2 separate regions of the Homo sapiens genome follow, and region 1 is linked to region 2. Evidence: fine-mapped QTL for protein levels in blood plasma. Region 2 holds a variant in brackets. A gene starts in the other region. All regions are shown on their reverse strands.

What was found. A credible set is the group of variants that fine-mapping cannot tell apart. PIP is the posterior inclusion probability: the model's chance that the variant is causal. The UK Biobank Pharma Proteomics Project read protein levels with antibody pairs (Olink). The fine-mapping took linkage between variants from a reference panel, not from the people measured, so its PIPs are less certain.
Region 1: it holds the start of CD55, and the variant in region 2 is the best candidate, but not a certain one, in a credible set for the plasma level of the CD55 protein (UK Biobank, PIP 0.61).

The regions. Positions count from the first base shown.
Region 1 is chr1:207,319,757-207,322,668 of GRCh38, reverse strand. It overlaps CD55 (CD55 molecule (Cromer blood group)), which reads right to left and starts at 991. Exons shown (of 10, transcript NM_000574.5): 1 at 804-991; 2 at 102-287. The coding sequence starts at 903. LOC107985251 (a long non-coding RNA gene) reads left to right here and starts at 540. Exons shown (of 3, transcript XR_007066838.1): 1 at 540-983. RefSeq lists a silencer at 716-795 and an enhancer at 1,356-1,565.
Region 2 is chr8:133,535,134-133,538,045 of GRCh38, reverse strand. The region is part of intron 2 of ST3GAL1 (ST3 beta-galactoside alpha-2,3-sialyltransferase 1); the gene reads left to right. Among named protein-coding and RNA genes, the nearest start is that of ST3GAL1-DT, 34 kb to the left of the region's middle. The variant G/T (reference allele first, on the strand shown) is at 1,180.

The DNA.
Region 1 (2,912 bases), not on the chromosome of region 2:
CGCTAGAGAACTATCAATTACTAGTCACTCCAAAGGTATATAAAAATAAATTTAAGATACATTCCATTCCCAGAACTTTTCTAAAAAGATGAAGAACTTACGATTGCAGAACTCTTCAATATCTGACCATTGACTGCCCTTAAGGCAGATCACTGAGTCCTTCTCGCCAGGAATTTTCACAAAGCTTTCTTCACATTTGTACGTTATTACAGTATCCTCGGGAAAACTTGTACGGCCTTCCAAAGCTGGCTGGGCATTAGGTACATCTGGGGGAAGGCCACAGTCACCTAGGGAGACAAAAGCAGAACTGAAGGAAATGACTATCAAGTGTCCTCACAGTTGCTGTTTTCAAGACACAAGCCCCCTTGAAATGCCACACCTGAAAGAGATGACATGCAAGTTTGCAGCATCGTGTGCTCCACACGGCTGGACTCTGTCGAGAGTGGGGAACGGTCAGCGGTCTGGCCTCCCATCCTTTTAGACCAGCTTTTTGGGGGTTAAGGATACAGTCTCTTTGAGCCCTCCCTTTCGATTTTGCCAGGCTTGGCTGCTCCGCAAACCCAGCCGGGGCCTCTTTAACCCTCCACGCCGACCCCTAAAGCCAAGTCAGCTGGGGGCCGACACAGCAGGAGCCCCAAATGCTGGTGAGCGGCGAGAGCCTTAAAGGCACAGGACGGCGGGAACCACGACCGCGGGCCAAGCTCCCCACCTGCCAAGTCGCCGGCCCCTGTGCGTGTCTCAGAGACCGACTTGGACCTCCCACCCAGCCCAGGGGCTTCCCCGGCCGCCGGGCCCCTACTCACCCCACACGGCCGGCAGGCACAACAGCACCAGCAGCAGCAGCCGGGGCAGCTCCCCGAGGAGGGGCAGCGCCGCGGGCACGCTCGGCCGCGCGACGGTCATGGCGCGCCGGGTTAGAACAAGGACGCGCCGCCGGGACTCCGCCGAGTCGCAGCTACGCCCAGCGGCCGGAGCGAGTTGCAGTAAGCAGAAGCCTCGTGGCTCCGCAATACCAGTTAAATGAGTGCTTTGGGCGGGGTCTGGGCTGGGGCTCTGCGTCACCAAGGGTGGGACAAACAAGACGGGTGGAGTAGGGGTTTGTTGTGGTCAGAGGTGCGGTCAGAGGGCTCCGGCGTCATACGCCCCGGGGGCCCTAGACTCGGGGAGAGTGGGGAGGGGAAGGAGGAGGAGCTCGCTGGCAACACCCTCTGGGACTCACTCTCTCCACTGCTGGGTGGGGCCTGCGATGACCTGCCTTCTAGAAACCTAAATATCTCCTCGCTACGTAAACACAAACGGGGTGTAAACGGGAGAGGGGGAGGGGTGCTCAAGTATCGCAGGCCTTGCTGCCCGCACGTGAGTTCGTCTAAGCGGAGCATCCCCGCGCTTGAGTGCTGCCAAGGGGACCTGCAGGTGCGGTGGAGTTCGGGGGCTGAGACTCAGGCGCTGAGACGCGGTGCTCTACCCGCGTCTTGGGCCCTCTACTGGGAGGTCTGTCAAAGGCCAGCACGAGGGTGGGGAAATAACTAAGGAGGAAGGGCGTCATCTCCTAGAACACTCTCTAATGTGAAAACAGAGACCTGGGGAAACAGGTTGAATAACACAGTAGGGAGTGAACATTGTTCATGCCTTGTTCGGGTGGGAGTCATTTTCTTCACCCGGGTTCTCCTTATTTACGAAAGACACCACTTTGGGATTACTCCAGACTGACTGTAGAGAGAAATTCACCAGTGTGCGTGTGTGTATGTGTGTGTGTGTGTGTGTGTGTGTGTGTGCGCGCGCGCGCGCGCGCCTCGGGGCGGTGTGGGGTGGGATAACAATAAAAACAAACAGACCCCAAAACGCTGAATGGTGGTGGGGTGGATTTTAAGAGGAAGGCTTGTTACAAACCCTTTAGAATAAATAGCCTGAGGTTTGCAAGACTGGCCACACATTAGAATCACGTGGGGAGCTTATATATATATTTATATTTATATATTCATATATATTTATACATATATAAATATATATTCTTTAAGTTCTGGAATACATGTGCAGAACATGCAGGTTTGTTACATAGGTATACACGTGCCATGGTGGTTTGCTGCACCCATCAACCCAACATCTACATTAGGTATTTCTCCTAATGCTATCCCTCCCCTAACCCCCACCCTCCAACAGGCCCCCGTGTGTGATGTTCCCCTCCCTGTGTCTGTGTATTCTCATTGTTCAACTCCCACTTATGAGTAAGAACATGCAGTGTTTGGTTTTCTGGTCTTATGTTAGTTTGCTGAGGTTGATGGTTTCCAGCTTCATCCATGTCCCTGCATAGGACATGAACTCATCCTTTTTTATGGCTGTGTAGTATTCTATGGTGTATATGTGCCACATTTTCTTTATCCAGTCTATCATTGATGGGTATATGGGTTGGTTCCAATCCAGAGGCCCAAACTGCACCTTAGACAAATTAAATCAGCATCTTTGGGGATGGGACTGGGTATCAGGATTACTTAAAGTGCCACACTGTGCAGCCAGGTTTGAGAACCACAGACCTATATGGTACTGGTCAGAGTAAAGATCTATCCAGCTTAGGACCACCCCTGTCGAAAACAGAAAGGATATAGATGGCAAGGTGGGTTGCCCTTCTTCATAGAGAATAGCCTCAAGAACATGCTTCCCTGTAATAATTTATCTGGGTCTGGCTAGCAGAGTCCTAGCCTAGATTCCTTTTCCCTTAAATGCCTTACCTCGTTAAGTGAAATTCCCTACTTGGAATTATACTTTGGTCTATGGACCAGCTGTGGGGGTATTTGTTATATCCTATCATTATATTCTTTCCTGAAGGTTTTCTGATAGCTCTTTCCTGGTTGGTATGAGCTTTTTGAGGAGGAAAACAGCAATTTTTCAATCATAGCATTTTCTTTGACCCATAC
Region 2 (2,912 bases):
CCCTCAAATGCAGCCCCTCCCTGCCCCTATTGTCTCATGTGTAAAATGGAGCAGAAGACGCACAGACCTTCCAGACCTCAGAGTGTAGCTCTTCTCAGTTGTTGGCTAGAGGCTTTGCAGTCACAACTCTCATCATTACCATCTTCTAGAAAGGTCAGGCACCGGACAGCTGAAACCATGGCAGCCGGCAACAGGAAGTGCCCTCCCTGGGTGCTCAAAGATCCAAGACAGCCGGGCCCTGTGTTTGTAGGAACAAGATTCCAGATGCCTCTGCTGCTTGCCAGCCTCGTGACCTTCATTCATGCAGGGCCTTGTTTTCTTGATTCAGTGGGGCCAATCCCGGCCCCCAGGGGAGATGGATGCTGCAGGGATGTGCAAGCTGTAGAGGGTTCCAGAGAATGGGCCTGGCGTTCTGCAAGCCTGGCACCCCTCCTGGATGCTTTTCTCCAGCCCTTGGAGCTTAGGCAGTGTAGTGTTAGGATGATTATTGGATTTCCTCCACAGTTCCTGGCTCATTCTTTTGTAGCCCTTGTTACAGCCTTTTGTGATAATATTGGGTGTGGCAGGCCTCAGGACACAGGATGTCTCCAACTTTCTCCTGCCTTCCTTCCCCTGCCCTAACACAGGACTCTAATCTTTCCCTGACTTTCTGACTGTGGGTCTTGAGATCCTCCCCAGAGAGGGTCCTACCCTGTACCCTGGGAGAAGGAATGCTGATGTCAGGAAGCTTCCATAAAACCCCAGAAGACTGGGTTGGAAGAGCTTCCAGATAGCTGAGCACTGGAGGTTCCTGGAGGGTAGCATGCCCCTTCCCCCATACCTCCCCCCACGCATCTCTCTATCTGTATCCTTTGCACCAGTAAATATGTTTTCCTGAGTTCTGTGAGCCCTTCCAGCAAATTAATTGAGCCCAGAAAGGGGGTCATGGGAACCCAATTTGAAGCCAGTTGGTCAGAAGTTGCAGAGACCCGGACTTGAGGCTTGTGTTTGGGGTAGGAGTTGGGGGCAGTCTGGGGCACTGATCTCTCAACCTGTGGGAACTGACCCTGTCTCCAGGTAGATGGTGTCAGAATTAAATTGGAGGACACCCAGCTGGTGCATGGTGTGTGGGCACAGAAGTCTTCTGTGTTGACCGTTCGGGTGTGAGAGCAGAGGATAGGCAGGGTTTCAGAGATTTTA[G/T]GAAATAGGTGGGAATAACACTTTCTGAGACTTGGTTTCCCCATCTGTAAAAAAGGAAGTAGTAATAGTACCCACTTGGGAGAGTTCTGTGAGGACTCAAATGACACGAGGACTCAAAAAGCTGGGTACGGTGTCTGGCCCATCGTAAAGGCTGAGTAATTGACAGGTGCATTTATCCCTGTGGTTCCTCACTGAGCCCGTGATAAATGGGCCTGTGGCAGGACATGAGTGAGCTGCAGGAACAGGAGCCAGGCCTCCCACCTTGCCGGCTTGGAAGACCGTCTGGCTGCAGCAGAGACATTCTTCCCAGAAAGAAGGGGCTTTCCATGGTGAACCACTGTGGCCAGGCCCAGAGGCCTTTACAATGCCAATGTCCCAAGAAGAGAGGGGCCATCAGAAGGATGGAAATTTTCTATGTGCTTCCAGAAATCAACCTACAGATTGATCCCTTCTCAAAAGACTAATTTTTATTCTAGTCATGCCCAGCTATAAGCATTTGGGCATTTACAGATAATCTTTGTTCCTGAAGGGCATCCGAATATGTCCTTCCTCCTTTTAATGCCCATGACCCTTACTATCCTGGAACAGAGTCCACATTGCAGAAAGGACAAGGCTCACCACGTTCAGGGCCCCATCAAGACCCCCAGCCTCATGTGTGCTCTCCCTGTCCCACCCCACCCCACCTTCTGCTAATCACAGAGTCATCTTCACAGTGTGAACCCTGAATACAGATGACCCGGGTTCAAATCACACTTCTGCTTCTTTTGCCACCTTGGATACAGTATCTTCTCTTGATCTCAGTTTCCTCATCTGCAAAATGGACATAACGGATAACAACAGCACCAAACTCCAGGATTGAATGAGTTAATACAGATGTGGAGATATTTCAGGCTTGGTTCCAGGCCACTGCAATAAAGTGAGGATTGCAGTAGAGCAAGTCATACAAATTATTTTGGTTTCCCAGTGCACACAAAAGTTGTATTTATACTATACTGTACTGTAGTCTATGAAGTGTGCAGTAGCATTATGTCTAAAACAACAATGTACATATCTTAATTAAAAAATACTTTTTTGTATTTTTTAATTAAAGCCATGCTGGCTTATGCTCCTAGCACTTTGGGAGGCTGGGGCGGGCAGATTGCTTGAGGCCAGGAGTTCCAAACCAGCTTGGGCAACATAGCGAGATTCACCCCCTACCAAAAAAAGTGAAAACATTAGCCGGGAATGGTGCATGTGCATCTATAGTCCTAGTCACTTGGGAAACTGAGGCCAGAAGTTCAAGGCTGCAGGGAGCTATGAACAGAACTTGACAGAGCGAGACCTTGTTTCTAAAAAAAAAAATTAAAAAATACTTTCTTGCTAAAAAATGCCAATGGAATGAGCACATACTGTTGGAAAAATGGCACCAATAGACTTGCCCAACACAAGGTTGCCACGATTAGTAAAGACAATAACAACAAAAAAATAATGCAGCACCTGTGAAGTCTGATTAAGTGAATATGCCTATGTATGTGAAAGTGCTTAGAACCCTGCTAGACACAGCAGTCTCTAACAGCCAGTATTCTATAGATCTATAGAGAATATGAAGCTAAAGATGTGGCTATGGATATAGATATAGATATAATGTAGCTCTAGCCTGGGCTCATCACCCCAAATGTAGTACCTGCCATGTCTGCAGGACTTGGTCTGTGAGGTTTGCATGTGCTCTTCTCTACCTGGAATGCCCTTCTCTT